Linked DNA regions of Homo sapiens. The protein of the gene in region 1 purifies or fractionates together with the protein of each later gene. This does not show direct contact. Each region holds a gene or a part of one and is shown in the gene's direction. Other genes may lie near its edges. The genes, in order: RRP9, PWP2, UTP15, DCAF13, NOL6, UTRN and DHX30.

Region 1 (2,988 bases):
TCCCAGGGTAAAGGATGGTGCTGTGGTGATGACAGTCCTGGTGTGTCTGCCTGGTGGGTCCTTGGATCTGATCCAGACTGCCCCCGTCATGTCTGGGGATAGTGTCACCCTTTCTGCTCTCTTGTGTCGCATCTCTGGTTTCCGGTATCCCTTGCCTTTCTCTTTCCCAGTTTACCCTCTTGTTTGGGAGCACAGCTTCTATCCTTCCTAAAGAAAAAGAGGGAGAAAATTCCATGGCACCTTGCACACCTGGCAGTGTCGTCGTTGATTGTTTGACTGGGCATGGCATTTTAGGGGTCAGTGTATTCCTCCAGAGCTTTGTGTGTGAGGCTTCTTTGTCTTCTTGTTCTCAGTATTGCTGTTGAGATGCCTGCACATTTTGATTCCTGACTCTTTGTATGTGACCTGATTTCTTTTGGAAGCCTGGTTTCTCTTGGAAGCCTCCTCTTTCCCCCAGAGTTGAGAGGCTTTAGTGATCTCTTTGGGATTTGGGTCTGTTTCCACCCCTACGTGGGGCACTGAGTGGGGCCTTTTAGTTTGGGGAGTCACATCCTTCAGTTTTCTGCAGTGTAGTCACCGACCATGTGGGCTAGCAGGGAATAGGGGAGGTTGGATGGCAAGGTGAGCATCCAGAAGGCACGATCCTAGCGGTCAGAGGAACAAGGTGAGCCCCTCAGACCCAGCCCCTTCCTGCCCACAGCCTAGCTCCAAGGAAGCCTGAGGAGGAGGAGGAGGAGGAGCTGGAGGAAACTGCACAGGAAAAGAAGCTGCGCTTGGCCAAGCTCTACCTAGAGCAGCTCCGTCAGCAAGGTGAGCCAGTGGGCAGGCCAGCCATGGGCAGGGCTTCTGCCTGTGCTGGTCTGCTGCCCGCCGCTGCAGCCCCAGCCACTTGATGGGTGACTGACATGGATTCCCAGTGGGTGCCCAGGCTGTCAGTGCTGGCTGCCCTGTGGGGGTGGCCAGAAGCTCTCATGGGCCTCCTGGGGAGCCCGCAGGGGGCTGATCTGATAAGTAAAGGCAGGAGGAAACCCTCCAGCTTGCCCTCCCCTCTGCTGAGGCAGCTGGAGCTTCCTGCATTATCCAGCCCTGGGGCAGTGGGATGGGGACAGGATGGAAGGGAAAGAGGGGTCTCAGCCTCAGTTTACTTGGTCTGGTCTGTCCTGCACAGAGGAGGAGAAGGCTGAGGCCCGTGCATTTGAGGAGGACCAGGTGGCGGGGCGCCTGAAGGAGGATGTGGTAAGTGTGGAGGGAGAGTTGGGGGAGGACGGGGGTGGAGCTGATCTGCTCCCAGGGTCTCATCCATCTCTTCTCCATGCAGCTTGAGCAGAGGGGCAGGCTGCAGAAGTTGGTGGCAAAAGAGGTGAGTGGGCATGGTATTTTGGTATAAGGTTGGAGGGAATTGGGGGCCCCACTTGGAACATGGTGGACACTTGGGCCTATCTGGTCAGGTAAGGATCTGGTTGTTGTAGCCTTGGGTCTTGTTTTCCTTCTGGCCTGGGTGGGAAAGGCCAACACTACGCAGTGGGGTTGGTGAAGGTAGTGCCTTTATGCCACTAGCCACAGTGACCTGGCCCCTGTCTGCCCAGATCCAGGCCCCAGCCTCAGCTGACATTCGCGTTTTACGGGGGCACCAGCTCTCTATCACATGTTTGGTCGTCACCCCCGATGACTCAGCCATCTTCTCTGCTGCCAAAGACTGCAGCATCATTAAGTGTGAGTGAGTGCCTGGGTGGGGCTGGAGCCCCCATGGCGGATCCGGGAGGGCTGGTCAGGGGAGTGGGAGTGGTCATGGCAGGCTGAGCCCTGAAGTGGGGAAGTCTCTGGAGGCAGGTTTGCTGCCCTAGGAGTGCTCTCTGGGTGACAGTGAAAGCTGCTGCCCGGCAGTGGGGCTTATGAGCTCCCTGTCCCTAGAGACCTTTGGGCAAAGTCAGGATGATGATTTAATGGGAATTAATGCTGCAGGTAGGTGGTTGGACTAGAAGACATTTGAGGCTGTGCAGTCCTGGGATTGAGTGCCCGGTCCTCCTGGGTTCCCATCCGTTGCTGGCTGACCAGCGGTTCCTTCTACACCCGCTGTAGTAACAGAAGAACTCACACCATCAATCCCAAAGCCCTTTTACATCCCTTCTCTTTTTTGGGCTTTGTGGCTGCTGTTTGGCACTAATGTCCCTCTTCATAGATGAGGAAACTGAGGCAGCTTGTCCGGAGGCTCACGGTGGCTGAGCCAGGTCTTCTGGCCGAGTCCGGGACATTTGCCATGGCTCTTTTTTCCATGCTGCCCCTTGAGGGGGGTTGCCAGCCAGCCCTATCCCCCCATCCCAGTAGCTTCTCCCCCACCCCCAACTGCAGGGAGCGTGGAGAGTGGACGGAAGCTGCATGTGATTCCTCGAGCCAAGAAGGGTGCCGAGGGAAAGCCCCCTGGCCACAGCAGCCACGTCCTCTGCATGGCCATCTCCTCCGACGGCAAGTACCTTGTAAGGCCAGGTTGGCCCTGGGGGCAGGCGGGAGGTCTGGTGCATGGTGGGTGCCTGTGATCATTGTCTTCATCCCTGCAGGCCTCTGGTGACCGCAGCAAGCTCATTCTCATTTGGGAGGCCCAGAGCTGCCAGCACTTGTACACCTTCACAGGACACCGGGATGCAGTGTCGGTGAGGAGCTGGGTCTATGTCAGTGGATCTTTAGTGGGCACATGCTAGTGTTCTAGGCTCAGTGCTGGCCTCTGGAGTCTCTGTCCTCAGGGAACCTGCATCCTGGGGTAGCGAGTGGGTAGCGAGTGGTGCTGTAAAATACATAAATGGGCTAAAGGGATGGGGAGGAGCTGGGGGAGACCGGGCCGAGCTTGCTCAGGAATCAACGAGGGCCTTGAGAAGCCGCCTCTGGGCGGGATGTAGCGGCTCTTGCCTATAATCCTAGCACTTTGGGAGGCCGAGATGGAGGATCATCTGAGCCCAGGAGATGGAGGCTGCAGTGAGCTATGATCGCACCACT
Region 2 (3,500 bases), on another chromosome or scaffold:
CTTGGTATATTGTCCAAGCTTGTCTTGAACTCCTGGACTCAAGCAATCTTCCCAACTCAGCCTCCCAAAGTGCTGAGATAACAGGCGGGAGCCACCATGCAGGCCTAAAGTTGGTTTTTAGGAGCCATACGCTGAGGTTTCCGTGGTGGCCACCGTAAGTCCATGTCTCCTCTCCACCCAGGGCCTTCACCGCCCTGTGCTACTCTGCAGACGGCCACAGCATCCTGGCGGGAGGCATGTCCAAGTTCGTGTGCATCTACCACGTCCGTGAGCAGATTCTCATGAAGAGGTTCGAGATCTCTTGCAACCTGTCTTTGGACGCCATGGAGGTGAGCCGCCAGCGCGGGGCCGGATGGATGTTGCTTCCAATGCAGGTGGAATGCGTCGGGCTCCTGCGTTCTGCACTCCTGGCTCCATGGGGCCTTGGGCACAGTTGTGGTGCTTGTCCTGTATCTAAGTGCACGGGCCCCTCACCTGCCCCAGCAGAGTCCGGCCGTGAAGCCAGCACCTGCCTCAGCTGTGTGTGGAGCCACGGTCCCCAACCCTTTTGGCATTTGGGACCGGTTTCGTGGAAGGCAATTTTTCCACAGACAGGGTTGGGGGGATTGATTTTGGGATGAAACTGTTTCACCTCAGATCAAGATCACCAGGCATTAGATTCTCAGAAGGAGGGTGCAACCTAGATCCCTCACGTGTCGTTCACAATAGGGTTCGCACTCCTGTGAGAATCTAATGCTGCCACTGATCTGTCAGGAGGCGGAGCTCAGGTGGTGATGCGAGCAATGGGGAGCGGCTGTAAATTCAGATGAAGCTTCACTCATTCACCTGCCCACCACTCACCTCCTGCCGTGCAGCCTGTTTCCTAACAGACCATGGGCCAGTACCAGGGGTTGGGAACCACTGCTGTGGATGACCCTGCCGAGGCTGGTTGCTAGGAGGCTGGAGCTGTGAGGGGCAGTGCCCAGCACACGCTGGCTCAGGAGACACGGACATCTGTCAGGGAAGGAGTGAACGAAGAGGGTGCTGGTAGGCCCTGCCCGATGGCTTCCTGCCCGGGGTCCTGTGTACAAGGCTCTGCCTTCACTGTCCCCACTGGTGCCTGCCCTTCCCCCTCAGCACAGCCCTCGGCTCAGGTCCCACTCACATGCTGGCTCCTGCAGGACCTCAGAATGAGAGTGAGGAAGCCCTGGTAGCCTCTAAGCAGGGGTGTGGCTGCTGGGTTCACCTGTCCACGCCCCATCGGGGCAGAAGCCCACTGTCCCCTAAATGTTTCTGGGGGAAAGTGTCCTTGGCATTTTCACAAGGGAGTAGACGGCCATCCTCGCTGTGAGCCCCAGCCTTTGTGATGGTGGCAGCAATGCCAGCATGTAGACCTCAGTCCATCCCCCTCCGCAGCCTCCGCACCTGCCCTGCTCCACAGCTTCCACACCCACCCTGTCTGCAGCTAGCTCTGCAGGAAGAGTCCCTGGGGCACTGCAGGGCTCTCTCCCCGTCCTTGTTCTAGACAGGGCTGAGGCTTGTCTGGTGTTGGGGTCAAAGAGCAAGGGTAGGAGACGAGGGCCAGGCGGCCAGGCCATCAGAAGCAAGGCGTCCACTGCTTTTGCTGTTCTAGGAATTTTTGAACCGAAGAAAAATGACAGAGTTTGGCAACCTGGCACTAATTGATCAGGATGCTGGGCAGGAGGATGGAGTCGCGATACCACTGCCAGGCGTCAGGAAAGGTGAGCAGAGGTTCCTCCCGCATCTGCCCACCACTCACCGGTCCTGGGTGACCACGCATTCATGCCCCTGGTTGGGGCTGCAGTGTGTGGAAATAACAGTTACTACATGGTGACATTTGCTGGACACTGGGGGTGTCAAAGGCCCAGTGGGTTGGTGCTGGTGCCGTCAGCCCCTGGGCAGGAGAAGCTGCCCATGTGTTGCTACACGTGGCCTCCCTGCCCTGGCGGGACCCGTCCATTTGCTCTTGGGACTGGGTGCCCCGTCTGCTGCACAGCACACGGAGCATTCTGGCGTGAGGCCATGTGCGCCGCACAGAGAGCCAGGTGCTCTAGAAGATCTGGGTCCCAGGTAGACCATCCTGATGGGACACTCGCCAGCCAGAAACCCTGAGTGCTTCCATATGCAGGCCCAGGGTACCGTGTTGAGCACAGCAGACCCACTCCTGGGCTGGGCTGGGGCCCTTTTCTGGGTTGGACACACAGTCTGCTGGCCGGGCTGGCTTTTTTGAGCATCTGCCCCATGGGCTGGGCCATCTGTTTGGCAGCTCACCCGGAACAGCCTCCGCGGCCCCAGCACGGGCCCACCTGCCGCAGCTGCAGCGAGGGAAGGGCTGCTTCTGCCTCCGCTTTGTGCAGGACCCAATGAGTAGAGGCTGCTGCTCTTGATGGGGCTCCCACAGCACCCCCCAGCCAGCCGGGAGACCGCAGGATGACTTGCTTCGTGGGGAGAGCAGCCTGGATATGCTGTCCAGTGATCATTAACGGTTCTTTTTTCCCCAGGTGACATGAGTTCTCGGCACTTCAAACCTGAGATCAGGGTGACCTCACTCCGCTTCTCTCCCACTGGTGAGCACTGAGCCATGGGCTTTTGGTGCCGGTGGGCACTGGGGCATCTGTGCCATAGCAAGGCTGGCCACCATGGAGCTGTCTGCAGGCTCTGGGCTGTGCCCTGTGCCCCTGGGTAAGAACATGGCCCTGCAAACCCTGCAGGCCACAAGATGGCTGTTGTCCCTGAGGATGGATGGCTGTCACGGTGCCAACCTCAGATGCACTGAGCTTTGAAACATGGCAGGCCTGGTATGCCCTTGCTCTAGCAGCTCCCCGAGTGCCCTGGACGTGCTGCCTGGGGGCGGCTCTGCCATCACGGAGAGCCCGTCTCCTGCGCACTGCCCCCATCCTCTCGCAGTGGGGAGGAGGGTCTGTGCCACAGGCCTGTGGAGCCTGGCGGTGCACATGGTCCCCACACAGAGGAGCCAGGAGCAGGGCTATTGGCAAGCGTGCTCCAGCCTAGACTGAGTGTCAGAGCCAGGGGCAGAGAGGCCCATGTGAGCCAGGGGTCTGTGCCCTCGGGCCCAAGGGCCAAATCTGGCTGGCCACCTGCTTTGGTCACTGATGTTTTACTGGGACATTTTACTGGGCGTTTTTTTGTTGGCGGATCCTTCTGGCTGTCTCTAGTGATCCGTGCAGCACTGAGTAGGTGCAGCAGAGACCACAGGGCCTGCGGAGCTGAAGACGCCTGAGCTAGACAGAAGACTTGGCTGGCTCCCGGCGTCAAGAGAGGAGGACGCATGCGTGTACATATTTGCTTATATGTGCATCCCTGGGAGAGTAACTTCTGGGATGATCCATTCATTCCTTCCCAGGGGAGTAGTGGGGTGGGGGCTAGAGGCAGACGTCCCGGTTCCTCCTGATTTTTGCACTTTGTCCCAGGGGAATGTACTTAATACTGTTTCTTTAAAAAAAAAAAAAAAGAAAAAAAATGTTGGGAGGAATGAGCTT
Region 3 (3,500 bases), on another chromosome or scaffold:
ATGGAGTTTCACTCTTGTTGCCCAGGCTGGAGTGCAATGGCGCGGTCTCGGCTCACCGCACCTTCTGCCTCCTGGGTTCATGTGATTCTCCTGCTTCAGCTCCCAAGTAGCCGAGATTACAGGCATGTGCCACCATGCCCGGCTGATTTTGTATTTTTAGTAGAGACAGGGTTTCTCCATGTTGGTCAGGCTGCTCTTTAACTCCCGACCTCAGGTGATCTGCCCACCTCGGCCTCCAAAAGTGCTGGGATTACTACAGGTGTGAGCCACCGCACCCGGCTAATACCTTTTCTTTACTCCCAAGTTTGATCTTCAGATGACAGTGGCTCATGGTCTGTCCTTCTGTTTTTTTTTTTTCCTTTTTTTCTTTTTAAATTTTTGAAACAGAGTCTTACTCTGTGGCCCAGGCTGGAGGGCAGTGGCACGATTTCGGCTCACTGCAACCTCTGCCTCCCAGGTTGAAGCAATTCTCATGCCTCAGCCTCCTGAGTAGCTGGGATTACAGGTGTGTGTCACCACACCTGGCTAGTTTTTATTATTTTTGGTAGACATCGGGTTATGCCGTGTTGGCCAGGCTGGTCTTGAACTCCTGGCCTCAAGTGATCTGCCCACCTTGGCCTCCCGAAGTGCTGGGATTACAGACCTGAGCCACCACACCCGGCCCTTCTATTTTTTTTATAAGTGGCTAGTCAAAGTTTTTATACGGATGTTATAGTTAGGGCTGGTATACAGCTCTTTTTTTTTTTTTTTAGACAGAGCTTTGCTCTTGTCGCCCAGGCTGGAGTGCAGTGGCACAATCTTGGCTCACTGCAGCCTCCACCTCCCAGGTTCAAGCAATTCTCCTGCCTCAGCTTCCCAAGTAGCTGGGATTACAGGCATGTGCCACCACGCCCAGCTATTTTGTATTTTTAGTAGAGATGGAGTTTCACCATGTTGGTCAGGCTGGTCTCGAACTCCTGACCTCAGGTGATTCACCCACCTTGGCCTCCCAAAGTGCTTGAATTACAGGTGTGAGCCACCGTGTCCGGCCTACAGCTCATTTTTTAAGGGATTCAGTGATGAATTAGTTTGTAATTAACATTACTAATCTTTGTTTTTCTTCACTGTTGTACAGATTTTAATGTTTGTATTTTGTTTTCAGAAAATAGAAATTTGCATTTTATACTCGTTTTCAAGGTGATTTTTGACAAAGCTTTTCCTTTTTATTAGGAAGGTGAAAGTATACAGCACAACTTCCTACAAAGTAGTCCACAGTTTTGATTATGCAGCTTCAATTTTGAGTCTTGCCCTTGCAGTAAGTACCTTTACCTATTTTTAAGTCTGTCACTAACCCTGCCTGTTAAATGAAACTAAAATGGAACTTTGGGCTTTATTTTTAGATTTGAGTAACTTTTCTTGCCACATCAGATATTTGAGTTAAGACAATTGCTGGAATATGTAACTCGTCCTATTGACTCAGCATGAATTCAGATTTAGGTCCCACTCACTGTAGAACTTCAAACTAAATACAGTGCTCTAGGCATTGTTAACATTAAACGCAGGACCTGGGAAGCTGGTAAATCTCTCTTCAACTCATTTAACTCAAGAGTATTATAGTACACTAGAAAGGCAGATTAGCTCTCTGAGCAGAAAAAAAGATGTGGGGAGAAGGGGACAACAAAATGAAATATCTCCTTTTCTTTGTTACTGCTCTTTCTGAAATGTATACTGTCAAGTTTTATGAGAAGCCACATTTGGGCAGGAAGGCATTTGACTATATTATATAGAAATCTGATTTGGGAGAGGAAAAGCTTATTAAAAATATTTTTGGGGGGCAAGATCATAAAAGTCTTGCTACTGTGTAATCTTTGATGCCGTTAACTATGTATTATACAAACTTTGCCAGTGATATTTTACAAGTATAAGTTCTGTCAATGTAGTTGTATCCTAAGGAAAAAATGATTTCGCTTTAACGTCTTGCACCAATCATCGTTAGGCAGACTATGTGTATTTGAATGGAACTGTTGGTGAATGTATGGACAAGCAGCAAACACATGGTAAATGTGTTTTGAAGTAAAAGTACTATAAATTACGAGTTAAGAATAGACTAACTTATTTTTCTAATTGTTATTAGCATGAAGATGAGACAATAGTTGTAGGAATGACCAATGGAATACTGAGTGTTAAACATCGGAAATCTGAAGCAAAGAAGGAATCACTTCCCAGAAGAAGAAGGCCTGCATATCGAACCTTTATTAAAGGAAAAAATTACATGAAGCAACGGGTATTTGTGCATTTCTCATATTTGTTTAAAGGGTGAAATTTGTTAGAGTAGCCAGCTTCATCCCTGCACATTACTGGAAAGCGTAGTTCACATGGCACTTTATTTTGCTTTTCTCTACATCAGAATTATTTCTAGATTGCTAGATTGGGGACATTATTGATGAGTAATGGGGAACAAGGACTACTTTATGTAATACTCTGCATCATAACATAATGTTATAATGCTTTACTGCATTCAAAATAATGTCTTTCACATACTACCTGATTTGATCTAAATCCCAAGAAGTAGTAGAACCAATCATGTCCCTGTTTGGCACCTGAGAAGACTGAGCGACAAATAATTTGTGATTGATTCAGGATTTCATTACTGGTATCCAGAGTTGTTGAGACTAGATCTCATTATCTCTGATTGTTGTTTGATTTCTCTTTCTACTGTACCACACTGCCTGCCACATAAAGAGAATTGAAATGAGTAATTTTTACCTAGAATTAAGGCAATGGTGCATGTTGTAAGTTAAAATTATAAGAGAGTAAGAACATGTTGATGTAGCAAGTTACTCCTTTTTTTTTTTCTTTTTTTGACTCTGATTAGCAGGATGCATTTTTATTTAATCTACATTATGGGCATATGAACATTATTTGTGACATAGTTCAGAGATACCACTTCATTATGAAAAAGTTTATATTAAATGTATATTTACACAGATGCTGATTTTCCTTCTCTATAAATGTACTTTTCATTGCAGGATGACATTTTGATTAACAGGCCAGCAAAGAAGCACCTAGAATTGTATGACAGGGATCTGAAACATTTTCGGATCTCTAAGGCACTCGATAGAGTTCTTGATGTGAGTGAGCATTTTTTAAAAAATCATGTTATTACTTACCCTGCATATTACCATGACTTGGAACTGTGAAGATAAATATTATTCAAACTTGATAATTTAGTGCAAGACAGTGATTTTTTTTGTGCTGTTTTGTCTACTCATGTTGACTTTGAAAATTTTTCTAGCCCACTTGTACAATAAAGACACCCGAGATTACGGTGTCCATCATAAAGGAGTTAAATCGAAGAGGAGTCCTTGCAAATGCGCTTGCAGGTCGGGATGAGAAGGAAATCAGTCATGTTCTTAATTTTTTGATAAGGTATGTTTTTTGTCTGTGAAACACTTACATTTTGCATCTGAAATCCTTTATCACCAAATAAAAGACATTTAGTTTGATCTTTGTAGAGAACT
Region 4 (3,500 bases), on another chromosome or scaffold:
TTTATTGTTTATATTTTAACTTTTATTATGTGTCACATTTTTCTGACTAAACTGTAAGTTGTTTGAGATTAGGAGACTGGGAGTTAAGCATTTCTATTTTTATATTTACTATTCTGCCTGTGTATTTAAGAAGCAATTACTGATTGATTTCTCTTCCCATTGCACTGAGCTGAGTACTTTACACATAATAGGTGTTTATGAAATATTTGCTTAAATCAGTGGGGAAAAGAAAAGGAAAGGAAGTGGGAAATTCATCCATTCTTCCTTTCTCAGGTTATCTTAGATATGAGAACAAATACAATCTGTTGGAACCCTATGGAAGCTTTCATTTTTACAGCAGCAAATGAAGATTATAAGTAAGTTTCCCTCTTTTAAAAACTTGTGTATTTCTATCATGAATGGCTTAATTGTATAAGTCGTACTAATAAAATATATACCACTAGGTAGGTATACCTATAAAGTTTGAAAACTGTCATCTGTTTAGCTTTAAAAAGTTTTCCAAATTGGAGAAGAACTTCTTAGAAAAGTATTTATTTCGTCAGTATTTAGAATGATGTAGACCAGGGACAGTAAACAACTCGTGGACCAAATCCTTTCTGTTGCCTGTTTTTTATAAAGTTTTATTGGAATATGGCCACACCCACTTACTTATTTAGATATTGGATATGGCTGCTTTTGTGCTATAATGCCTGAGTTGAATAGTTGCAGCGGAGACCTTATGGCCCACTTGCCTGAAAATGTTTAACATTTGGCCCTTTACAGAAGAAGTTGGCTGATGTTTGATGTAGGTCTTATAAATAATGACTGAACCATACATGTTTTAATGGAAATGAAAATATCTGCCTGCAATGTTTGTATTGCGGTGAGTATCAGGTAGCTGATGCTCATGTGGTCATGTTATCAGCTATCACTGTTCAGTCAGATGGAAGAAAAATTATAGTTATCTTTTCAGTATCCATATGAGGTAGGTGGGACATGCATGTTATCCCCTTTTTAAGATATTAAAGCGGGGAGATTAGTCTCCCAGGGAGGAAAGAGTATCTTATCTTTTTTTTTCCCAAAGCATTTATTATAGCGCTATGCCTTTGATAGATTCTTAATACATGTTTTTTTTAAGAAGGCAGAAGTTTGTTGGTGGATTGAACTTTAGATCTTTGTATTGTTTTATGTTCCACTATGTAGATTTGGAAGCAAAAAAGTAGTAGTGTTAGCTCATAAAAGGATTTATTATATGATGTTTTAGTGGTACCAACTAAAAGCATCTTTTATGACTTTCTGCTAAAAAGAGGTTTAGTCCAGGAGTTTGAGGTTACAGTGAGTTGTAATTGGGCCACTGCACTCCAGCCTGGCCAACAGAACAAGACCCTGGTGTCTTAAAAAAATAAAAGAAGCTCAGTTAGACTCTCATTAACTAGCAATACCAAACCACAGTAATTGAAGCTTTTTTTTTTAACCTTTATTGATGTTTTGAAATTAAGTGGCATTGTTCCAGTTAAAGGCAATAAAAGACAAGAGTAATACAGCATTATTGTGACCAACCTCATTAAGATTTCTAAAGAATGTTCTAATAAGCTATTTTAGCAAGGTACCGTTTTTCAGAGTGTCCTCGGAATTTCTCATTCCTTGCCTTGAAAAGAATTGCATATGCCACCTGAAACAAAGAGCATATCCCTTATAATAAGTGACTGTTGGAGTATCATAATTGCTCTTTGAAAATGATCTTGCTTTTGTATCCCTTTTCTATATTTGTAAGTATTTTTTTCTTTTATTGCCCTTTAGATATTCTAGTCATTCTGAATTAGAAACCTAAGTTCAAGTCTAGGCCGACCAGTAATTACTGTATAAACTTGGGCAAGTCATTTAAACTAACTCTATATCATAGTTTCAGCATCTGTAAGGTGAGGGTTAGAATAGATGATCCCTAATGAATCCTATAATGTGGAACTTTGTTTATTTAAAGGTTTTCCATGTACACAAATTGATATGCTTAGAATTGGAATTCTTATCATTTTTCCCATGTAGAAATAAAGCATCTTACTAAAAAGCAGTTTGCTGGAACCAAGCAAACCTAGCTGAAAACCACTGTTCTTAGGCAGGAACTGTAAAGCAGTTGTCAATGTCTTACTACTAGTAATGTTAACCTTGATCATTTGGTTAGGGTGGTGTCTGCCAGGTTTCTCCACTAAAGAGTTACTTTTTTTTCCTTTTGTAATTATTATATATCTTTGGGGAGATACTTTGAAACTATGTAGATATCCTCTTCTCAGACTTCTACTCACTAATCTTAGCATCTTCAAGTATTTTTATATTAGGAACTTGGTCACAATATTGCTGTATTACTTTTGTCCATTGTTCATGTTGGTTCATTTGAAGCACTATTCTTTTAGCCATTAGATTAAGAATTTTTGAATCTTGAAACTCATGAAGTCATTGTTTTTACCAATTGTGCATAAAGTATAGTTTCTCATTTTGATTCACCCTTTGAAAGGCCATGTTCACTCTTACATATCACCAGTAGGAGTATAAATTAGTGCAACTTTGTTGGCAGTGATTTGGCAACTCAAATCAAGCCTAAAAATGCTCATGCCTTTAAGCTTAACAATGCTACTTGTAGGAATCTGTCCAGATTTAATTGAACCTGTCCCATTCAGTTAAAGATTGAATGTTAAAAATCCAAACGTTGGGAATTTAATAAGCATTATATATAATAAAATGTTGGAAACTATTAAAATATAGGGAAATAAATTATTTGAACTTATATATACAGCCATTAAAATATTTTCAAAGATTGTTTAATAACATGGGTAATGCTCATTAATATGCTACGTGAAATATCAGAATATAAAGCTTTACATAACATTTCAATTTTATTAAAAGTATGTATTTAAATAGTATGGTGAAAAAGGTTTTTTAAAAAATTATGCTGTACTAAATAACTGGCCTCTGGGTAGTAGAATTCAAGGTAATTTTTGTACTCTACTTTTTTTGAAATTTCCACATTTTCTACAATGAGATTTATAGGGTGGAAAATGTGTTGGTATATATATAAGTGGAGTCTTAAGGAATCATAAAAACTGTTGAAATTTTTCCTTATCCCTCACCTGCTTGTGTACAGCATTGAGCTTTTTGTTTAGATGTGCATTGTTTTGCAAATGGTTCTTGTTTTCAGTGGTATCTTTTAGTACTGCATATGGCATCTTTCTAGAAATATGTGTCAAATATTTAAAAATTCTTTTACAGCTTATATACTTTTGATATGCGTGCACTGGACACTCCTGTAATGGTCCATATGGATCATGTATCTGCAGTGCTTGATGTGGATTACTCTCCCACTGGGAAGGAGTTTGTGTCTGCTAGTTTCGATAAATCTATTCGAATCTTTCCTGTAGACAAAAGTCGAAGCAGGTATGTGCCTACCAGTAAGCCATTTATATTCATATGTCACTTAACAATGGGGATGCATTCTGAGAAATGAGTCATTGGGCGATTTCATCATTGTG
Region 5 (3,500 bases), on another chromosome or scaffold:
TGAGCTGGGTCCAGAGGCAGACCAGCCTGAGGTGGGGGACCCCAGCATGTACACTGGAAGGAATGGGGTGGCTCGTCCTCATGGCACCTGGACTGAAGCTTGTTGGGGAGGGTCCACAGAGCCCTTCCTTCCCCAGCTCTACTACCACCCTTGCCTCCTCAGGCTGCTAAATTCCGCCAGTTCTGGGGATCCCGCTCGGAGCTTCGGCGTTTCCAGGACGGAGCCATTCGGGAAGCTGTGGTCTGGGAGGCAGCCTCTATGTCCCAGAAGCGCCTTATTCCCCACCAGGTGGTCACCCACCTCTTGGCACTGTGAGTGTTGGCATCTGGATTCCAGAAGGCAGTGTGGGCTGGGGAGCCTTTTCAGGGGTCTGGCCCAGGCAGTTGAGCGAGAACATAGCCCCAAATTTTCTCACTGTGTCTCTGCCTCTTTTTCAGCCATGCTGACATCCCAGAAACCTGTGTCCACTATGTGGGGGGCCCCCTGGATGCACTTATCCAAGGCCTGAAAGAGGTAAGGGTCTTGGGGTCAAGGCTAGTGATTGTAGAGTAATCAATCTGCGGGGAGAGAGTCCTCTCAGCCTTGGCCAGCTTGCACTTCCTGGCATGTCCAGCAGGCGGCGGTGCTGGCTCTGCTGCAGCCTGAGCTGGGGCAGAATCCAGGTGAAGCTGGCCTTCTGTAGGGTCCAGCCTCCTGACCGTCTTCTCCCTCTCAGACCTCCAGCACAGGTGAGGAGGCCCTGGTAGCGGCGGTACGTTGCTACGACGACCTCAGTCGCCTACTGTGGGGGCTAGAGGGTCTCCCACTGACCGTGTCTGCTGTTCAGGGAGCTCACCCAGTGCTGCGCTACACAGAGGTGAGGTGCAACGGTGCAGGTGACCTTTCTGCTTAGTGGCCCCACCTCTGCTCCAGTCACCCAGTATTCCCCACTTCCAACTCCTGACTCTGGGCACTCCCTCCCAGTCCTAGGCCCATTCCTCAGCCCCTCTTCTTCCACAGGTGTTCCCACCAACTCCAGTCCGTCCAGCCTTCTCCTTCTATGAGACTCTGCGGGAGCGGTCCTCACTGCTGCCCCGGCTCGATAAGCCCTGTCCGGCCTACGTGGAGCCCATGACCGGTAAGAGGGCCCTTGGGAGGGAGTGGGAGGGATAGTTCCAGCTCCAGGCCACAGTATGAGACCTCTGACTCTTCTTCCTCAGTGGTTTGTCACCTGGAGGGCAGTGGCCAGTGGCCACAGGACGCTGAGGCCGTGCAGCGGGTCCGAGCTGCCTTCCAGCTGCGCCTGGCAGAGCTGTTGACACAACAGCATGGTCTGCAGTGCCGTGCCACTGCCACGCACACGGATGTCCTTAAGGTTAGGCTGGTGCAGGCAGATATGTCCCCAGGGAAGGGGGGCACCAGGGATGTCAGGGCGTGGAAGAAGACACCCCTGTGGGTACCACGCTGGGTAATAGGGCTGTAGGCCACAGAGTACTCCCGGGGTTCTGGGCTGACACATCCTTCTCTTTCCATACCTTCTTCCAACAGGATGGATTTGTGTTTCGGATTCGCGTGGCCTATCAGCGGGAGCCCCAGATCCTGAAGGAGGTGCAGAGCCCAGAGGGGATGATCTCGCTGAGGGACACAGCTGCCTCCCTCCGCCTTGAGAGAGACACAAGGCAGTTGCCACTGCTCACCAGTGCCCTGCACGGGTAAGGCCACTGACACAGCTTCTTCCTGTCTGTAGGCCCCCTCCTGCCCCCATTCTCCTCACCTAGCCACCTGTCTCTCCAGGGGCCAGATGGTATCATAGTTAGGGGTATGAGTTCTGGAGTCAGGCAGGTTCTGGAATCCTGGCTCTGCCACTTACTGACTGTGACCCTATGGTCAGATTTTCCTCCTTGGTCCCTATATTTGTCATCTGTAAAATGGAAATAACACTAGGGTCAACTTCTTGGTGCATTTCTTAAGAGAATATGAGATTACATATGTAACCTATTATCACTGAGGCTGGCCTTGGGTAGGGGCTGGATGAACAGTGGCAGTGGGGCCCTGAGTCTCGCTGACACTCCCCTTCTCTCTGCAGACTGCAGCAGCAGCACCCAGCCTTCTCTGGTGTGGCACGGCTGGCCAAGCGGTGGGTGCGTGCCCAGCTTCTTGGTGAGGGTTTCGCTGATGAGAGCCTGGATCTGGTGGCCGCTGCCCTTTTCCTGCACCCTGAGCCCTTCACCCCTCCGAGGTGATTCCCTCCACTTTTTCCCCAGCTGAGAAGTTTCCTTGCGGCCAGCCATCATCCTTCGTGCTGCACCCTAAGTCTACATGGGAATGGGTGGTTGAGCAAGTGGCAGAAGGGGTTCTAAGATGCCCTGCCCTGCCAATCCACACCAGGGGGTCTGAGCTCCATAGCCTGAGAGAAGCCTGGGGATATGTGGCTGGGCCCTGGATTCTTTGCTTACTCCAGCCCTTTAGTTCCCCCCAGGTTGGCTTCCTTCGATTCCTTTTCTTGGTATCAACGTTTGATTGGAAGAACAACCCCCTCTTTGTCAACCTCAATAATGAGCTCACTGGTAAGTGGTAGAACAGGGGTCAGACTGCTGGAAGAACAGCTCTTTATGGATTGCAGGCAAGGGTTTCCCTGGCAGTGTTAGGTTTTCTCTGTGCCTCCCCAGCCCCAGATGTCTAAGCCTGACATGAAGAAGAGGTCCAGGTGAACAGCCTGACCATTATGACATGGTTTGCTCTTAATTGTCAGAGACAGAATGATAGGGTGGTAAGCAAGCTACCTGGCGGGGGGCTGTGGAAGGAAGAGGAGAATAGAAGGGGGATCCTGAATACCACGTAAGAAGTATTAGGGCACGGAGCTAGGAAGTGTAGCACAGATACTCAGACCTCTTGGTGGGGGTGGGAGTGGTGATTTCTGGTTGTAACGTGAGGCACTCGGTCTCTGCAGAGAGCAGGGTGTCAGGTTCCTAATTCCCCAGGTGTGTGGAAGCCCATGGTGGGAGGGGGCCAGGGGCAAGACTCAGCTTGTGCAGGCCCGGAAACCAGACTGGGGGTGCCAAGCAGTGGAAAATTTTGCCTCTGGGCTGAGGTTGGGCGATTAATGCCCCACCCAGTTGAGGCAAATGCGATGTCCCTTTCGTCACCTTTGCCACTTGGTGGGGGGGAGTGTTGAAAAATACCTGTGATGAGCAGCCGTTGGGGGCACCGTAGGAGGACCTGGGGGAGTAGAGGGTGTCTTACAGGGAGGAGCAGGCTGACCCAGGACCCATTCTTGTCTCTAGTGGAGGAGCAGGTGGAGATCCGCAGTGGCTTCCTGGCAGCTCGGGCACAGCTCCCCGTCATGGTCATTGTTACCCCCCAAGACCGCAAAAACTCTGTGTGGACACAGGATGGACCCTCAGCCCAGGTTCAACCCCATACCTGCCCCCTAATGTGTGGTTTTCTTCCCAAGGAAAAAGCAGGCCCAGCCTGACCTGGGAGAGACCCACTTCAGTTCCAGTCTGATGTGTCTGTACCCC
Region 6 (3,500 bases), on another chromosome or scaffold:
AAGTATGGAGAACATGAAGCCAGTCCTGACAATGGGCAGAACGAATTCAGTGATATCATTAAGTCCAGATCTGGTAGGTAAAGGAAGCTCAAGAAAGCTATGGATTTTTATGTATTTAGAAAACCTATGTTTCTTGGATTGATTTGCATTGTTCTTGCAAGAACTTCTTGGAGGTGAAGTTCTTTTAAGAAACTGAATTCTGACAAATGACTATAATTTTGTAAAAGGTATATGTAAAAGGTATAATATCTCTGAGTGTCCTATCCTTTCTCAACCCAATTTTGTGCTTAGTGAAACTGCTGCTTGTAGCTAAAGGTTGTTCATTTGGAAGACTACTCCATTAAAATAAAATACGACCGAACATTTCTCTTTCTATTTTCTGGAAATTGAAGGGATTATATGCTTAATGTAGGAAGTGCCACAGTTTCTGGCAGGAAAGATCTTTCACAGTTTGATTTCATTACCATATATCCTCACCCCCATCCCTGTTCATAGCCATTGATAGGCCAACAGGTGTCCTACCTTGAAATATCTTATGAGCCTTCTCAAGGTAAAATTTTCACCTAGGTAATCTAATAAACCAGACTCAGACAGATTCATGGTTTTCACACGAACAGTTAAATTGGGGTCCTCAGGATACCACCCCCTCCTCCAATCTTTTTATATAACCGAGTGCTTTTTGACTCTGGCTGTACAGATGAATCAACTGGGGAGTTTTAAAAAACGCAGATGCATTGGCTCCATTCCAGACCCATTGAATAAAAATTTCTGTATTTTTAAAAAGCTTCAAATATGATTCTGAGACAAACTCAAAGGGGAGATATTTTTGAACAGGCAGAACACTTCTCAGCCTTGAAAATTACACAGAACTCCACCCTGAGTGTGAACACTATACTTAAGTAACTTTGAAAAGTTACTTTGAGGTATAAAATTACATCCAGTGTCACTTTAAAGACAAAAAAGGAACCCAAAGCCTGTTTTTGCTGTGTGAACCATCTTTATGTTCTGTTAGGAGCTTGTTTCTTATTATGTGAAACTGTAGAAATACACAGTGAAAATAAGATCTAAATTAACTGTCTTAAAATACACATTTTCCTCCATGATACCGGTGTTGGTTGATTGATAAAGATTTTAGTTATTACAGATTTGGCTGTAAATATGTAGCAACTATTGTGTAGCTTGACGGGTCTTTTGAAGGTATAGCTTAATATCTTGTTTTAAAATATGCTTTGAGGATGTTCTCTTCCTGTAAAATTCTTTTTGTTTTAAATGTTTTAGTGGTATAAGGTACTACAAAAATGTAAGGGATTATTAATATCATCTTAGGAGTACGGAATACATATTCAGACATATGTAAATATAACAGAGGAAAATGGAAGAGAGACGATTTAATGTCTCCATACTAGTCATTTTCTATAAATTGTGAGGAGGTATATTCCTAAATAGTTTTCTGAGTCAGCCTTCATTCTAGTAAGACCTTTGATATTTATAACTTGTACTTTAGCCGTGTCCATAAAAGAGTAATTATCTAATTTCAGAAATACCGTGTATATATAATGAACATATAAACTCCCAAACTATTTTAATTTAAAATTATCTTTTAAAAAGGCTGATGAACCTAAAATATTGCTGGAGAACAATTTGGCAAAAATGATAACATGTTTTTAACACATGCATATCAATTAACTGAGTAATTCTGTTTCTAGAGTTTTTCCCTAGGCAATACATAAAAAGGTACACTCAAGAAATTGATCACAGTATCATTTATAATAGAAAACATTGTAAACACCATGAAAATCTAATATTAGGAATTGGTTAGATCATTATTTCCCAAAGTATTTCGAAAAGATCAAAAGTTCTAGGATTGTTAATGTGTAATTCACAAAAGGATGTTATGGTCAAATAGCTTTAGGAAATAGTTGTTTAAACCTATTATTCTGTTTCTTTACTCTAGCACATCTGAACAGATCATACATGATCTCAGTAGAGGTAACTAAATTAGGGTATATCCATAAAGTAGAAGATTAAGCATTCATAAAAAGTGATACAGATGTGTGTGATGTGTGTGTGTGTGTGTGTGTGTATGAATATAGAAATGTGTTCTTGATATAGTAAGTAAACAAGTATGTATTATATGAAGTCATTTATATGAAAAATGTTTTTTAAAAATTTAGTGAAGTATACAATAAATGTTAATAGTGGTCATCTTGGCATTTGAGATTATTACTTTTTTTTTTGCTGATTTATATTTTCTAAAGTTCTTCAATGAACCCACATTACTGAGTTCTTATATTTTTAAAGATTATCAAATTGCTTAGAGTGTTTAGATGCCAAGGTTATGACTATTACTTTTTTTGTGGTGGCATCTACTTCAAAACACACTGAAAATTTAGTTGTTACATAGCTCAGATATGAATCACATTCTTTTGGCTGAATTATGTTGCAAAAGCCAGTAGATAAATTTGGATTTGAATGGACCCATTAGTCCCAATCTGGCTTCCTCTAAGGGACTTTTTTTGATTCTTTTAAGGCAAATGCTTACTATACAGAGGTAATATTTCATGGTACTCTAAAACTTACATATTTTAAGAGATTTTTAGTTTAGATTAAGTCATAGGAATTGTCTACATATCATATATGTATTTTAAAGATCCTCTGTCTACATGCTGTATGCCAAATTGGTTGCTTTTCCATTTTTTAAAAGGGAATACTTTCCTTTAGGAAAATTTTGATCCTCATCTGCTCTTCCAGGTTTCTTTTTTGGGGGGAAATTGGATGAAAGTGGGGGGACGGAGAGTGTGGTTTCTGCTCTCCAAATCCTCGAGTTTGGACAATCCAAAAGGCTGGCATAATTAAATTGGCATAATAAAAATGTCTATGCATTTTATGTTAAGTTATTGTGATTATTTTTATTGTCCTCACTTAGTATTACTTTGTTTCATGCCATTTTGAATATTATAATTTTTTAAATTTTATAATTTTAAAGCCATTTCTACCATCTAAACAGAAATAGGAAGTTGTCAAGGGTACGTAATGAAGTAGTTTCATAAATACAAAGCCATGTATTTATTTATGGTTGTAGTATACTTGCCTTGGGTTTGGGTGAGTGTTAGAAAGGAACTGGAAAGAATTTGATCTATAATGACCAAGGATTTGGTGTTGGGTAAAAGTAGACCTGTCTTTCTCTAACTTAAAAGCACATATGCCAAGTTCATCATCAAGTACTGTATTATTAACAGCCTTAATTAGTAGGCTTTAGAAAGTTCAACAAGTTAGTAAATATTTTGAAACAATAGGCCAAGACTAAGAATTTTTAAAAAGTGAAATTTATTGCCAGTAGAGTGTGTGATGCAGAAAGTACTGCTTGGAACATTTTAAACATGAAATAATAAAATGGTTTGGGATGCATATACAATCGAAGAATATCCTCACTGCTATTTCATTCAATAATTAACATACATTAAAGCTAGTAACACAGAATAAGTCATCCTTTTCTGTTG
Region 7 (3,500 bases), 4.1 Mb from region 1:
CTGTTGCCCAGGCTAGAGTGCAGTGGCGTGATCTTGGCTCACTGCAACCTCCGCCTCCTAGGTCCAAGCAATTCTCATGTCTCAGCCTCCCGAGTAGCTGGGACTACGGGCATGTGCCACCACACCCAGCTAATTTTTGTATTTTTTGTAGAGATGGGGTTTCGCCATGGTGGCCAGGCTGGTCTTGAACTCCTGACCTGAAGTGATCTGCCCGCCTTGGCCTCTTGAAGTGCTGGGATTACAGGTGTGAGCCACTACTCCTGGCCCATGTGGTATTTTCTTTGTGTCTGGTTTACTTAGCATAATGTCTTCCAGGTTTATCCATGTTTTTACTTTTATTTATTTATTTTGAGACAGGGTCTTGCTCTGTGGCCTAGGCTGGAATGCAGTGGTGCGATCATGGCTCACTGCAGACTCCACCTCCAGGGCTCAAGAGATCCTCCCACCTCAACCTCTGGAGTAACTGAGACTGCAGGTGTGCGCCACCACACCTGGCTAATTTTGTAGAGATGGGGTCTTCCAGTGTTGCCCAGACTGGTCTTGAACTCCTGAGCTCAAGCAATCCACCTGTCTCAGCCTCCCAAAGTGCTGGGATTACAGGCATGAGCCACTGCACCTGGCCAGATCTCCTCTTCTTTAAAGGCTGAATAATATCCTGTTGTGTATATGTACCATTCATCCTTTGACAGATGCTTAGGTTGTTTCCGTATCTTGACTGTTGTGAATAATGCTGCAGTTAACATGGGAGTGCAGACATCCCTATGAGCTGATGATTTCATTCCCTTTGGGTATATACCCAGAGCAGATATTGCTGGACCATATGGTAGTTTTATTTTTAATTTTTTGAGGAACTTCTTTATTTTTTATTTTATTTTTTATTTTTTGAGATGGAGTCTTGCTCTGTTGCCCAGGCTAGAGTGCAGCAGCGCGATCTCGGCTTACTGCAGCCTCTGCCTCCTGGGTTCAAGCAATTCTCCTGCCTCAGCCTCCCGAGTGCCTGGGATTACAGGCATGTGCCATCATGCCTGGCTAATTTTTTTTTTTTTTTTTTTTGACATGGAGGTTCGCTCTTATTGCCCAGGCTGGAGTGCAGTGGCGCAATCTCAACTCACTGCAACCTCCGTCTCCTGGGTTCAAGCAGTTCTGTCTCAGCCTCCCGAGTAGCTGGGATTACAGGCATGTGCCACCACGCCTGGAATTTTGTATTTTTACTAGAGATGGGGTTTCTCCATGTTGGTCAGGCTGGTCTCGAACTCCTGACCTCAGGTGATCTGCCTGCCTCGGCTTCCCATAGTGCTGGGATTACAGGTGTGAGCCACTGTGCCCGGCCAATTTTTTTGTACTTTTAGTACAGATGGGGTTTCACCATGTTGGCTAGGCTGGTCTCGAACTCCTGACCTCAGGTGGTCCACCCGCCTCAGCCTCCCAAAGTTCTGGGATTACAGGTGTAAGCCACTGCGCCCGGCCAATTTTTTTGTACTTTTAGTAGAGATGGGGTTTCACCATGTTGGCTAGGCTGGTCTCAAACTCCTGACCTCAGGTGGTCCACCCGCCTCAGCCTCCCAAAGTTCTGGGATTATAGGCATGAGCCACTGTGCCTGGCTCTCTTTTGGGTTTTCTATATATAAGATATGTCATTTGTAAGCAGGGATAATTTTACTTCTTTCTTTCCAGTTTGGATGCCTTTTTTTCTTGTCTGCCTGCACTTTCTAGTACTTTTAGTACTATGTTGAAAAAAAGTGCTGAGAGTGGCCAGGGGCCATTTGGCAATGTCTGTAGGGATTTTCGTTGGACACAGGTGGAGGAGTGCTACTGGCAGCTGTAAGATCAAGGCCAGGAATGCTTCTTCCCAGCTTACAGTACACAGGACAGCCCCCTATAGCAAAGAATTACCCTGCTCAAAATAGCAATTATGCTGAAGCTGAGAAATCCTTCTCTGCCTGGCTGACTGGCTGGCTGGATGTTTGAAGGCACTTTAAACTCAGACTTTTGTTTTTTGAGATGGAGTCTTTCTCTTTCGCCCAGGCTAGAGTGCAATGGTGCAATGGCGTGATCTTGGCTCACTGTAACCTCTGTCTGCCTCCTGGATTTAAGTGATTCTCCTGCCTCAGCCTCCCTCATAGCTGGGATTACAGGTGCCTGCCACCACGCCTGGCCAATTTTTGTATTTCTAGTAGAGATGAGGTTCCACCATGTTGGCCAGGCTGGTCTCAAAGTCTCCTGACCTTAGGTGATCCGCCTGCCTCTGCCTCCGCCTCCCAAAGTGTTGGGATTACAGACATGAGCTACTGTGCCCGGCCATCCCAGCCTGTCTGAAGCAGGTCATTATCACATTTTTCTCCATCTCTTTTTCTCTTCCCCATCTATGTGTATAGTTTTGTTTTGTTTTGTTTTGTTTTGAGATGGTGTCTTGCTCTGTTGCCCAGGCTAGAGTGCAGTGGCGCAATCTCGGCTCACTGCAACGTTCACGTCCTGGGTTTAAGCGATTCTCCTGCCTCAGCCTCCCGAGTAGCTGGGACTACAGGTGCGCACCACCACGCCCAGCTAAGTTTTGTATTTTTAGTAGAGACAGGGTTTCACCATATTGGCCAGACTGGTCTTGAACTCCTGACCTCGCGATCTGCCTGCCTCCCAAAGTGCTGGGATTACAGGTGTGAGCCACCGTGCCCAGCCTAGTTGTTTTTGTTTTTTTGATCATAGCGATCCTAATGGGTGTGAGATGAGATCTTGTTGTGGTTATAGGAGTTGTTTTTTATTCTAGAACTCAGCCTTTTATTCTCTAATAGCTGTACTCCCAGTTCTTCAGCGTTTCCCTTTCCCCCCAAATCAGATGTCTTTTTCTGCATTGCCCATAGGCTTGGTGAGACGTGCTGGCAGCACAAAGGGGACTGAGTCAGCAGCCACAGCCAAGAAGAAGGTGTCCACGGGAGGACATAAATGCACCCCAGCCTCCTAAATAGAAGAGGCTTATTCTTGAAGAATGGTCCTTGCCAGGGCCGAGGGCTGGAGCAAGGCACTCCAGACTCAGGCCAATGTGGCTTAGAGCCCGGGTGAATATGCGTGGCTATGGGGAATGAGAATGAATGTGGGTCTGCCTGCTGGGCCATGCGGTAGACGGGCAGGGAGGAGCTAGAACTCCAGGGCCTTCACTGTCACAGGGGCAGAATGATTTGATCCTGTGGCTGCCAGGGCTTCTGACTAGTGGTAATTGATAGAATGACACAGCCAAGTTTGCTTTTAGGGAAAATCACTGACAGCAGTAGTTTTTGGCAAGACCAGAGACAGGGACACTGGATGGAAGAGAATACCAGCGGCAGCTGTGGAGGAGGTTTCTTCAACGGTATTAGAGGGCCAGGCATGAGGGCCTGTAATCCTAGCACTTTGGGAGGCTGAGGCGGGTGGATCACAAGGTCAGGAGCTCGAGAGCAGCCTGGCCGACATGGTGAAACCCCATCTCTACTAAAAATACAAAAATTAGCCGGGCCTGGTGGCGTACGCCT

What was found.
Region 2: the proteins of RRP9 (region 1) and PWP2 fractionate together in Homo sapiens (co-fractionation; 2 studies listed by BioGRID). This does not show direct contact.
Region 3: the proteins of RRP9 (region 1) and UTP15 purify together in Homo sapiens (affinity purification with mass spectrometry; one large-scale study listed by BioGRID and IntAct). This does not show direct contact.
Region 4: the proteins of RRP9 (region 1) and DCAF13 purify together in Homo sapiens (affinity purification with mass spectrometry; 2 studies listed by BioGRID, with this or other methods). This does not show direct contact.
Region 5: the proteins of RRP9 (region 1) and NOL6 fractionate together in Homo sapiens (co-fractionation; one large-scale study listed by BioGRID). This does not show direct contact.
Region 6: the proteins of RRP9 (region 1) and UTRN fractionate together in Homo sapiens (co-fractionation; one large-scale study listed by BioGRID). This does not show direct contact.
Region 7: the proteins of RRP9 (region 1) and DHX30 purify together in Homo sapiens (affinity purification with mass spectrometry; one large-scale study listed by BioGRID and IntAct). This does not show direct contact.

What each region holds. Positions count from the first base shown.
Region 1 is NC_000003.12:51,935,917-51,938,904, reverse strand, and holds part of RRP9 (U3 small nucleolar RNA-interacting protein 2), read left to right. Parts: intron 1-700; coding exon 701-810; intron 811-1,168; coding exon 1,169-1,236; intron 1,237-1,318; coding exon 1,319-1,360; intron 1,361-1,586; coding exon 1,587-1,713; intron 1,714-2,349; coding exon 2,350-2,474; intron 2,475-2,555; coding exon 2,556-2,648; intron 2,649-2,988. UniProt on the Homo sapiens protein: Component of a nucleolar small nuclear ribonucleoprotein particle (snoRNP) thought to participate in the processing and modification of pre-ribosomal RNA (pre-rRNA).
Region 2 is NC_000021.9:44,124,399-44,127,898, forward strand, and holds part of PWP2 (periodic tryptophan protein 2 homolog), read left to right. Parts: intron 1-181; coding exon 182-329; intron 330-1,612; coding exon 1,613-1,721; intron 1,722-2,501; coding exon 2,502-2,567; intron 2,568-3,500. UniProt on the Homo sapiens protein: Part of the small subunit (SSU) processome, first precursor of the small eukaryotic ribosomal subunit.
Region 3 is NC_000005.10:73,575,743-73,579,242, forward strand, and holds part of UTP15 (U3 small nucleolar RNA-associated protein 15 homolog), read left to right. Parts: intron 1-1,209; coding exon 1,210-1,294; intron 1,295-2,113; coding exon 2,114-2,263; intron 2,264-3,008; coding exon 3,009-3,110; intron 3,111-3,274; coding exon 3,275-3,408; intron 3,409-3,500. UniProt on the Homo sapiens protein: Ribosome biogenesis factor. Involved in nucleolar processing of pre-18S ribosomal RNA. Required for optimal pre-ribosomal RNA transcription by RNA polymerase I.
Region 4 is NC_000008.11:103,432,386-103,435,885, forward strand, and holds part of DCAF13 (DDB1- and CUL4-associated factor 13), read left to right. Parts: intron 1-273; coding exon 274-356; intron 357-3,240; coding exon 3,241-3,405; intron 3,406-3,500. UniProt on the Homo sapiens protein: Part of the small subunit (SSU) processome, first precursor of the small eukaryotic ribosomal subunit.
Region 5 is NC_000009.12:33,463,925-33,467,424, reverse strand, and holds part of NOL6 (nucleolar protein 6), read left to right. Parts: coding exon 1-31; intron 32-162; coding exon 163-311; intron 312-437; coding exon 438-513; intron 514-715; coding exon 716-856; intron 857-999; coding exon 1,000-1,117; intron 1,118-1,199; coding exon 1,200-1,354; intron 1,355-1,527; coding exon 1,528-1,691; intron 1,692-2,065; coding exon 2,066-2,218; intron 2,219-2,448; coding exon 2,449-2,546; intron 2,547-3,263; coding exon 3,264-3,388; intron 3,389-3,500. UniProt on the Homo sapiens protein: Part of the small subunit (SSU) processome, first precursor of the small eukaryotic ribosomal subunit.
Region 6 is NC_000006.12:144,291,835-144,295,334, forward strand, and holds part of UTRN (utrophin), read left to right. Parts: coding exon 1-73; intron 74-3,500.
Region 7 is NC_000003.12:47,834,138-47,837,637, forward strand, and holds part of DHX30 (ATP-dependent RNA helicase DHX30), read left to right. Parts: intron 1-3,500.